Linked DNA regions of Homo sapiens. The protein of the gene in region 1 purifies or fractionates together with the protein of each later gene. This does not show direct contact. Each region holds a gene or a part of one and is shown on either strand. Other genes may lie near its edges. The genes, in order: ANKH, ABCD4 and LRIG1.

Evidence for each region.
Region 2: the proteins of ANKH (region 1) and ABCD4 purify together in Homo sapiens (co-immunoprecipitation; one large-scale study listed by IntAct). This does not show direct contact.
Region 3: the proteins of ANKH (region 1) and LRIG1 purify together in Homo sapiens (affinity purification with mass spectrometry; one large-scale study listed by BioGRID and IntAct). This does not show direct contact.

The regions. Positions count from the first base shown.
Region 1 is NC_000005.10:14,865,279-14,868,778, reverse strand, and holds part of ANKH (mineralization regulator ANKH), read left to right. Parts: intron 1-3,500. UniProt on the Homo sapiens protein: Transports adenosine triphosphate (ATP) and possibly other nucleoside triphosphates (NTPs) from cytosol to the extracellular space. Mainly regulates their levels locally in peripheral tissues while playing a minor systemic role.
Region 2 is NC_000014.9:74,296,375-74,300,098, reverse strand, and holds part of ABCD4 (lysosomal cobalamin transporter ABCD4), read left to right. Parts: intron 1-423; coding exon 424-551; intron 552-2,029; coding exon 2,030-2,169; intron 2,170-3,649; coding exon 3,650-3,724. UniProt on the Homo sapiens protein: Lysosomal membrane protein that transports cobalamin (Vitamin B12) from the lysosomal lumen to the cytosol in an ATP-dependent manner. Targeted by LMBRD1 lysosomal chaperone from the endoplasmic reticulum to the lysosomal membrane.
Region 3 is NC_000003.12:66,406,882-66,410,605, forward strand, and holds part of LRIG1 (leucine-rich repeats and immunoglobulin-like domains protein 1 isoform 1 precursor), read right to left. Parts: intron 3,611-3,724; exon of another isoform or gene 3,592-3,610; intron 3,392-3,591; coding exon 3,248-3,391; intron 611-3,247; coding exon 467-610; intron 1-466. UniProt on the Homo sapiens protein: Acts as a feedback negative regulator of signaling by receptor tyrosine kinases, through a mechanism that involves enhancement of receptor ubiquitination and accelerated intracellular degradation.

The DNA.
Region 1 (3,500 bases):
CTTGAGCTCAGGAGTTCAAAACCAGCCTGGGCAACATAGTGAAACCTCGTCTCTATTAAAAAAAAAAAAAGGCCAGGTGCTATAGCTCACACCTGTAATCCCGGCACTTTGGGAGGTGAGGTGGATGGATCACTTGAGGTCAGGAGTTCGAGACCAGCCTGGCCAACATGATGAAATTCTATCTCTACTAAAAAATACAAACAAACAAAAAATTAGCCAGGCATGGTATTGCATGCCTGTAATCCTAGCTACTCAGGAGGCTGAGGTGGGAGAATTGCATTGAACCCCAGGAGGCAGGGGTTGCAGTAAGCCAAGACTGTACCACTGCACCCTCCAGCCTGGGCGACAGAGCAAGACTCCGTCTAAAAAAAAAAAAAAAAAGAAATGCAAAATTAAAAAATAAAACCTCTCATGAGCTTTTAAGTTCCTGGCTTGTCAAGAACAAAACAATAGCAAAATTATGTTAAATGTTTCTTAGATGAGGTGTTTTATGATGATAAATATCACAGTTTATGGTTTCTTTTAAAAACATGTACAGATCTTTTGAAATGGAAATCCAGCTATGTATAAGATTCCACTGAAAGTTAAATAAGCTGCACATACGTGACCATGTAAAGGAATTACCTGTTAATGACCCCAGAGCCAGTGTGTGTGGAGGGGCTAGGAAAGAGCCTGTAACAGTCTCTCCAGAAACTTCTGATATTCTCCATGAACATTACCTGTTGTATATAGATTTCTTAGTCATTTTATAGCTCAGTCAGGGAGGAAACCAAATCTTATGGACTATTTCCTCTAACAAAACTAGCAAAACCTATTATCACATTTTTTCAATTTTGGTAGTGGCAGTAATTTGAGGTGGTGGGGGGAGCGTTTGAATTTTGTACTAAAAAAAGCTCTATGGAATAAAATGATCTGCTTTTAATATTAAACATAGGCACCATAGAAAATGGGAACACCTTTGGGAGGCCGAGGCGGGTGGATCATGAGGTCAGGAGATCGAGACCATCCTGGCTAACAAGGTGAAACCCCGTCTCTACTAAAAATACAAAAAATTAGCCAGGCGCGGTGGCGGGTGCCTGTAGTCCCAGCTACTCGGGAGGCTGAGGCAGGAGAATGGCGTGAACCCGGGAAGCGGAGCTTGCAGTGAGCCGAGATTGCGCCACTGCAGTCCGCAGTCCGGCCTGGGCGACAGAGCGAGACTCCGTCTCAAAAAAAAAAAGAAAATGGGAACACATCTCCTTTTGCAGAAACTGAAGAAACGTTTATATTATAGAGCCCTATAGGTATATAAAATACTTTACAATCATTGTATATCTAGAATTATTTTATCTCAATTTTTACAGATTGAGAATCAAAAGTATTAATCACGTACATTGATTGAGCACCTAGTATGTGCCTGTATCTCAGCATATGATATATATGAGGAAACAATGAGAGGCCTACGCTTGTTAAGGTACTTGTTCAAGATGACACGGGTAGTAAATGGCAGAGCTAAGGTTCAAGCCCATACCCACCTGGTCTTTATAAATTTAGGAATAAGTTCTAGCTTTTCTGATTCCCAGACTAGGTCTAAATTTAATCTTAGCTGTCGTATATTGAATTTTTTTTTTTTTTTTTTTTTTTGAGACTGAGTCTCACTTGTTGCCCAGGCTAGAGTACAGTGGTGTGATCTTGGCTCAATGCAGCCACCATTTCCCAGGCTCAAGCGATTCTCCTGCCTCAGTCCCCCGAGTAGCGGGGACTACAGGCGTGCACCACCACCCCCGGCTAATTTTTGTATATTTTGTAGAGACGGGGTTTCACCATGTTGCCCAGGCTGGTCTTCAACTCCTGAGCTCACGTGATCCACCTACCTTGGCCTTCCAAAACGTGAGCCACCACATCTGGCCTGTATATTGAATTTTAAAAACTCAACAGATGTAGGATGATTAAAAGGAGGGCTTCCAGGAAAGGGATATTATGACCAAGAAGTTCATTTTAAGAAAAGCTTAATTACCCAGATAATTAAGTCAACACTGTATCTTATTTTAACAAGGTTGGCATAGCTTTTGGTCAAGGGGGGATGAAAGAAACAACTGATACCTCACAATAAAGTTATTTAGAAGTCACTTGGTCTTTGTCATTAAAACAATACAGATTGCTAAGGAAAGGAGCATGTTGAGATAGTTTTTAAAAAATATATTTCTTTTAAAGTATCTGCAAATGTCCATTTGATCTCACCATGTCCAAAGAATTGTTATTCTGTTTAAATTTGGTTCAGAGTCCCCAATTTCCTTAAAAGCCAAATTCACCAAATGACATAGAACAAATTAGTGAGCTTTTTAAAAAGGTACTCAGTATTACTTAAAATATTAAGGGCAACGTTGCTGTGAAGACCTTGAAGGAGAAAAGAAAGTTGAAATTGTTCTCACTTAAGAAATGTGTTCTGCCTAGGGCCAGGTGATCTACTCTTTCATGCTCAAAGGAGAAATGGTGCCAGGCGCGGTGGCTCACGCCTGTAATCCCAGCACTTTGGGAGGCCAAGGCAGGTGGATCACCTGAGGTCAGGAGTTCAAGAGCAGCCTGGCCAACATGAAGAAACCCCGTCTCTACTAAAAATACAAAATTAGCGGGGCATGATGGCAGGCACCTGTAATCCCAGCTACTTGGGAGGCTGAGGCAGGAGAATCTTTTGAACCTGGGAGGCGGAGGTTGCAGTGAGCTGAGACCGCACTGAATACCTCAATACCTTTCAGATACTTTAGATATTTCAAATTGCCTTGTATGATTCACTGAATTTGGTTGGGTCTAATATGATAATTCAAAGACCAGAGCTGTTTATCTGTGAATGGAGAGTTTTGCACATGAATTGTGACAATTCCTGGAATAAGATGTGTAATAGGAGTGTTCATATATCTTCAGCCCTTTCTATTTAGGAAACCTAGAGTTAGGCTTCCACAGTATAAGAGGGTTCCAAATTATTAATATCACAAGATGGACAAAAAGAGAAGCCCAGGAAAAATAGCTTGGAGAAGTGCACCCTCTCCACACCTCCTCCCAAAGTATAACAAAAGTATTTCATTCGATTAGGAGGAATAGGAATAAAAAGGACAGATGCAGTATATGGCACTGGCTTCAACAGGGAAGAGACTCTTCATCAAAAGTCACTGAGCAATGGAGAGGACCTCCTTTGACAGTGCTTAAGAGCTTGCCTTAAGGAACATGACAGGGATCTGTTGTAAGATCCACTTCCTAAAGTGCTTAAAGAAAGAAATGGAAATCTCAAGCTAAGGCTCCGAGTCACTGTGAGGGAGACTTTCCCCCTCCAGTCTATTCTGTAGTAACAGAATAAATTTCAAAATAATTATTTTTCCTAATTATAAATAGAAGTAATATCAGCTAATTGTTTAAAGTTTGGTAAATATTTTTTAAATGTGAAAAAATGCCTCTAATTTCACTCCTAAAACTCATTTAACAATTTGGGTATCTCCTGCCAATTTATTATTTTATTTAATTTATTA
Region 2 (3,724 bases), on another chromosome or scaffold:
CCCTTTCCATCTTTTTTTTTTTTTTTTTTTTTTTTGAGACAGAGTTTCTCTCTTGTTGCCCAGGCTGGAGTGCAGTGACATAATCTCAGCTCACTGCAACCTCTGCCTCCCTGGTTCAAGTGATTCTCCTGCCTTCGCCTCCTGAGTAGCTGGGATTACAAGCACCCACCACCACGCCCGACTAAACTTTGTATTTTTCAGTAAAGACAGGGTTTCACCATCTTGGCCAGGCTGATCTCGAACTCATGACCTCAGGTGATACACCCGCCTCAGCCTCCCAAAGTGCTGGGATTACAGGCGTGAGCCACCGCGCCCGGCCCCTTTTCATCTCTTTGGGGTGCTGATGAGGCAGGGACTCAGGAAGAAGCCTCCCTTCTTTTTAACCCCTCATCACTGATTTCTTACTCCTCTCCCTCCTTTCAGAGCAATTTGTGATCTACCAGGTTGGCTTGATCCCCAGTCAGTACTATGGGGTCCTGGGAAACAAAGACTTGGAAGGGTTTAAGACTCTGACATTCCTGGCTGTCATGCTCATTGTTCTGAACTCCACGGTAAGATCTTTCCCTCTCTCTGTGTCTCTCGTCCTCTCCAGTCCAGTGTGACCGTAATGCCTAGTGGAACTTAGCCTCCAGGAAGCAGGAAGCAAGCTGTGGGGGTGTGTTTCCTCCCTTTTCTGGGAACTAAAGGGATAGTTGCCTTTATTAAGCACGTTGATCTTGCTATTGGCCCACGTGGGACTGATTCCTCAGATGTTTCCACTCCTGGGCCCAGGCCACAGGTTCTGGTTTAATTCAGCATTTAGCAGAACTGATCATTGCCCCTTTCCTTCCTAGAACTCTTATTTCCGGCAGCTCATTAAAACGGCTCAGCAGCCAGAGCTGCTGCTCCTCCTCTGCGGGACCGAGGCTGTGACTCACCCTGGCACCATGTCACACCTCCCAGCCTTTGAACAGTGCTTTCTTGCAGAATGGCCTCCTCCCCTACCCCTCATTCAGTAGGGGGGCTACCACCTGCTCACTCTTCGTCATCCCTCCGTTGTCACCTCTTTCAAGTCTTTCTCAGCTTTCTCCTTTGTGTCTCCTCCACCAAACTCTGCCCTTTTTCTGTACTTAACGAATTCCTTGAGTTTACCTCGCTGTAACACTCCTCACACGCTTGTAATTGTTTTCTGGCTAAACTGTGAGCTCATAATGTCCCTAGTGCTTAGCACATAGGTGCCCTGGAAATGGTAAATGATGAGACTCAGGGCTGTACCAGAACTCAAGCCTAATGCTGTCTGCCAGGCTGTGCCACCTGTTTTCTTGGGGAAGCCACTGCTCATCGTACCATGGCCACTTTTGTTGGGTCTTCGGTCAGTAAGCACCTATGCATACAAATCTCTGTCCCAAGCTTGGGGGACAAAGGAGTAAGAACATAAATGGAATCGACAATATGGTCTCCAATCTTCAGAAGCTCATCTACTCTCAAAATAAGACAGTGTAGAAAGAGGGTCTTGCCTCTGGTAAGCCCTTTAATATTTGGTGAAGGAGGCTGGGTACAGTGGCTCACGCCTGTAATCCCAGCACTTTGAGAGGCCGAGGCGGGCGGATCACCTGAGGTCGGGAGTTCCAGACCAGCCTGACCAAGATGGAGAAACCCCGTCTCTACTAAAAATACAAAATTAGCTGGGCGTGGTGGTGCATGCCTGTAATCCCAGCTACTCGGGAGGCTGAGGCAGGAGAATCGCTTGAAACTGGGAGGCGGAGGTTGTGGTGAGCCAAGATCGCGCCATTGCACTCCAGCCTGGGCAACAAGAGTAAAACTCCATCTCAGAGAAAAAAAATTTGGTGAAGGAATGAACACGTGAGTGAGTGAGGAAGGGAAAGTCCCATGACTCGATGATTTAAAAAAGAAAAGTGCTGAGTGGACGGAGTAATCAGAGTCAGAGTGGGCTGGGATGGGTCAGCGGAGGCTCTTGCGAGCCTTGAGCTTTGAGCTGAGATTTTCAGGAAGCCATCTCTCCCTTCCCCTTGCTTCCCCCACTGCACAGCTGAAGAGCTTTGATCAGTTCACCTGCAACCTGCTGTATGTGAGCTGGAGGAAGGACCTCACTGAGCACCTTCACCGCCTCTACTTCCGGGGCCGTGCGTACTACACCCTCAACGTGCTGCGGGATGACATCGATAACCCGTAGGCGCCCCAACTCAGTCCTTTCTACACTCTGTGTGGTCCTTTCCTTCTGGCCTAGCCCTGGAGACTGCTGGTGGCAGACACCAAGGAGATCATCTGCAGTCGTTTTCAAATGCTGCTGCCCAGAGTCATGGGGGAGGGTGCCCTGCAGAGGACTCCTGGAGAAGCTGCAGGGCTGTGAATAGGCAGCTAAAAAGAAGAAGCCTGCCAGGTGCAGTGGCATGCACCTGTAGTCCCAACAACTCAGGAGGCTGAGGCAGGAGGATCACTTGAGCCCAGGAGTAGTGCACCGTGAGCACACTTGGGAATAGCCACTGTACTCTAGCCTGGGCAACATAGCAGAAACCCCCATCTCTTAAAAAAAAGAAAAATGTTAGGAGCAGCTTTCTTTTGTCCTTTTCATACTTTATATCTTAGTCTTCCAGTAAGAAGACTAAGGGGTTTCTTTAGAGGGTTCTAAAGAAAATGTCCTTGCTAGAAAAACCAGCTCTTAGATTTTCATCAGTAAAAAAAATTACCACTATCCAGGACTCAGTCTAGGATTCACATCTCCATTCTATCACCACTCAGGTTATAACTCTTAAAGTCACCAAGCCCCAGGTTCCCCTTCTGTAAAATGAGGACAATAATAGTTCCTATCTCAAAGGGTGTAGTGAGGATGAAATATCATTCATGTAATGCACATGTACAGTGCTTGACACATAGCAAGTGTTTCAGTGTAAGTTAGCTATTGTTATTTTACAGATGAGGAAGCTGAAGCCCAGAGATTGCAAGTGACTTGCCCAAGGTCACGTCACTCATTGGGAATAGGAATCAGTATGGCCCTAGTGGTGAGATGAGACATAGGGGGTCTCCTTCACACCCATCCCCTCACTCACCACCTTCCTAGCAAGCACTTTGTTGGTTGGGGTACCTCTCAGCTCAAGCTTAGCTTTGGTGCAAAGATGCGTGGGAGGCTGCTGCTGCTGCCTAACTTCTAGGCCTCTTTCTGATGGCTATGGCTTCCATCCTGCCTCTGCCCCCTGAGTAGCTGGGACTACAGGTGTGCCTCACAGCCTGGAGCTTTCACAGCCAGATAACTAAAGGGGCCAGGCTAGGGCTTATATAAGAGAAATTTGGGAGGATTGAGATAAAGGGGATAGTCTTCTTGATCATCCAAAACAGCTCATCTACCTTCAAGTTTTTCTTTGGCTCTGCTCAGAGCTGGCTCAGGCCCCTGGGTACTGGACCTTTCAGTTCCCACTTTTTCAGGGGATTAACTAAGGCACCGTAAGATGCAACTCTCTAGAACCCTGTTTAAAGGCCCTGGGATTTAGTTGCCCCTAGGAAACCAGCCTTGTCTGGTTCCCTCTTCCCATAGGGTCAGTGTTCACAGCACTGTGAGGCAAGGTCAAGAGCAGAGGTGATGTGAAAGTTTCTTGTTCTCTCTACCTTTGGGCCCATCTCCCTGGGTCCAGCTACTCTGTGTCATTGGCTCCAGGGACCAGCGCATCAGCCAGGACGTGGAGCGATTCTGCCGGCAGCTCAGCAGCATGGCCAGCAAGCTCATCATCTC
Region 3 (3,724 bases), on another chromosome or scaffold:
GTTCAAATGCTCAGACGAGAGATGCACTGCAGTATTCCCATGGTTTAGAGAAAAAATATTCAGGACTTGGAAGTTGCAGCTGAAGACTCAAGATGGGAAAGACTGACCCACGGCTGCCGAACTGGAGGCTGCACCAGGCGCTCAGCGTGGGGAAGCTTTTTCCAACACTAGGAGCCAGCATCCTGTCCAGCACAACGTGGGCATCACTGCTTGAGAACAACTACTTTTTAGGAGCTGCCATCCCTCTCTAGGCACCATCCTGGGGAAATGAGAGATTTTTCTGCTTAACCAGTTCTTTTTCAGTTGATTACATAAAAGTTTGAGACTCTGCACATAGAGCAAGCCAGCTTTGGATCCAATTCTGACTCGAAGCCAACGCAAATGGAGTTCAACAAAGCAGATGGTTTGCTCTATTCTGCTCTCCCCACTGGGGACCCCTTTATCCTGTCAGTAGTGGGAGACGTACAAGACTCGCAGGCTCCTGAGTCCCTTGAAGGCACCCTCCGCAATGTGGCTGATGGAATTGTGGCTGAGACGCAGGACACTCAGGCTGCTCAGCTCGGCCAGGCTCTCCTCGTCCAGCCGTGTCAGGTTGTTGAAGGACAGGACCCTGAGGAAAGGGAGGGCAGCAATGTCACCATCTAGTGTGGTTGCCCCCCAACCCCACCCCACCGGAAATTGGGCCACAGTCAGCTGGGTTTCAGTGGGAAATGACACAGATGCACACGCACGCGCGTGCGTGCACACACACACCCACACCCACAGAATCCTGGGGGTAAAAGTGGCCATGCAGCTAGAAACTCATCAGTGCCCAACACACTAGTCTGACTCGTAGAATGGGTGCATAGGTCACAGGGGCCAGGGTGGCTGTTAAACTGTGAAGACTACACACGAGGTCATGACACACAACAACTCTCAAGCTCCAGCGCCTTCATGCTGTCCAAGGCAGCTCCTGATTCAGGCTACAAAAGACCTCTCTCATAGCAGAAGCCTGGGATTCTGGAGATGACCCCGCAGCAAGCCAGGGAGCCCCAGTCACACTCCCTGCATCTGCCAGCAGAGGGCACCACTAGCCCCTGCGTGGGACAACCACACCTGTGCCTCATGCCTTAGTGGGGCAACTCCCCCAGGGCAGGAGGCTCCTGCTCAGGCCTCCCTGCCCCCATCCACGTGGACCTCAGAGCATGATCCCCTACTGCAGGCGGTAAAAGCACATGCTTTGCCCGAACCTCAGAATCAAAGCTTCCTCCCAGCACTCCTGCACCTCTGGGTTGCTTACGTGACATATTGGTCATCTATCGTTGAAAAATTGGGGCTGGGGCAGGGATAGGAAGATGGAAAATAAACTCAGAGAAGATTAATGAGCTTTTAAAGGCAGCTAGGAGCAGCATTCTTTCCCTCCTGGACAAATAAGTCAGGGTGTCTGTCAGTTAAACAGACCTGGCAGGAGATCAAAATTATATCCTCACCTGCAATTAAAGAATTTAGCTTAAAGGAGGGGTGGGAAACACATGCTGGGAAGCAATCCCAAATCTGCCTCTGAGGTTACCTGGATATGGTGCAAACTGCTAGGACTGCTCAAGCGCACTTCTGTGATCTTTGCTGCCCCTTCTAGAGGGCATGGAAGAGGGCTTCATGCCTTCCACCAGCTAGAGAGGGGATCCCGGACCCCGCAGAAGACAGCATGCCATCCCTGGGGCCACGATACACTGGTGAGTCAGAGGATGGCCCCTCACTTTAAGAATTGGACTGGCTCAGGCTTCGGGGACTTAAAAGACCTCTCTTGCTTCCCACACCTCCCGGCCCTGACCAACAAAACCAGGAGTCCCCTGGTGGGGTCACAGCTTGACTACAGAGCCTGAAAGGAGCCATCCAGCACCACATGGAATGCACAACTGCAGGCCCTGAAGCGTAGGAAGCTGAAACCAAAGGGTTAACACTCACAGAATCCAAGAAAAGTTAGGAAAGAGGCAGGACCACTGTGTTTTGCATTAGATAATGATGGAGTCACCAAAATATAAACTCCAAGTCAGTGTGTGTGTGTGTGTGTGTGTGTGTGTGTGTGTGTGTGTGTGTGTGTGGTGGGGGGAGGGGGGGAGGAGGAGGGAAGGAAGGACAGGGAGAGAGAGGAGAACACAGAAGACCAGACACAAACACCAGCTGCAAGAATCCACATTAGATTCACGCATCCCCTTGAGTTTGCCTGGTGAGGTCAAGAGAGAGACAGGACAGACTGAGGCTTGGCACTCTTAACAATCATTCACTTCAGTGGGTGAATTTTTTCCAACAGCCAAGCCTAGAAAAGGAAGAAAAAAACAAAACAAAACAAAAAAACCCACCCAACTCTTGTGAAAAATAAAGAAACACAGTAGACTAAACTGGAGCATATCAAATGGAAAGAACAGTGAAAACACAAACTATAGACTTGTAAAGATGTTCTCTGAGTCCTTAGGAATGCTGCGTTCACTGTCCAGTAACCCCACCCTGACATGATGGGGTGGCCAGGGCCACTGCCCATCGCTACCCAGGCGACAGTCTGTCACTACTAATCTCAGAACTTTGGGCAAGACAAGCTCAGTTCTCAGTCTCAACCTGGGACCCCTGTCTGGAAATCTCCAAAAGGAGCAAGAGGACCACACCACACATCTCTGAACTAAGCACGCACACGACTGCACAGGAGCCTCTGCCAGCAGGCCACTGCGGTGCAAAACAGAGAAAGGGAAGGGGCCAAGAACCTGGGCAGCTCATCTACAGGAAGGAAGGTGGCGACTCCGAGGACACAAATTCATCCACAGTCAGCGTTTCACTGTCTCTGTTTGAGCCCAAATGACCCCCTCACTGAAGAAGCACATGCTATTTGGTGTGGCCATTAACACACAGTCACTCTCAAAATGGCTCCTGTGAGCACTCTGCCATAGCTGCCCTTCCCCAGGAACTTTCTACCCCTGGAACTGTCTCCAAACCCAACAGGACCTTGGGGGCCAAGGCTCCCTGCAGGGACCTAGCTGCTACTCCTGGAGCCCCTGCTAATCCAAATGCAGAGGAAGTGAAGGGGAGATGAGGAAGGGACTGGGGCTCAAATCGCTGAGGGTTCCACCCTGGGCCTGGCTGGTTTGGGAACAGGGCTACTGGCCTGTCTCTGAGCCCTCCCCGAGGCCACTGTGTGGTGGAACGAACCAGGCCTAGCACTTTCACCTCCAAGCAGTGTCTAAAAACACTGCCACAGCCCAGAGCCGAGGACACTTACAACTCATGCAGCTTCTGGCAGAAGCTCCAGCCCTTGCGGTGAATGCGAGCGATGGAATTGTTGCTGAGGTGGAGCTGATGCAGGGCCGTGAGGCCGTAGAGCGAGCCGCTGTTCACTTCTACCAGGCTGTTGTACTCCAGGTGCCTGCAATGACAGCCATGCACAGGATGAAGAGGAGCTTTCACTCCCTTCACTGGACAGACAGCAAATGAGCAGCCACGCTGTACCTGACACTGCGGTCACACCAAGGCTAGAACAGTGCACGACAGAACTGTGGAGTCTAGTCGCACACATGTGCATGTGAGTAGGGGCTGGGAGAAGACAGGCAAATCAAAATGGATGACAGCACATGCCAAGGCCGACTCGAGTGTTCATAGGGCAAGAGGGAGCTTCCTAGAAGTGACTTTTTTGGCTGAGTAAAAGTGAACCAGGGCTGGGTGTGGCGGCTTATGCCCATCCAGTACTTGGGGAGGCCGA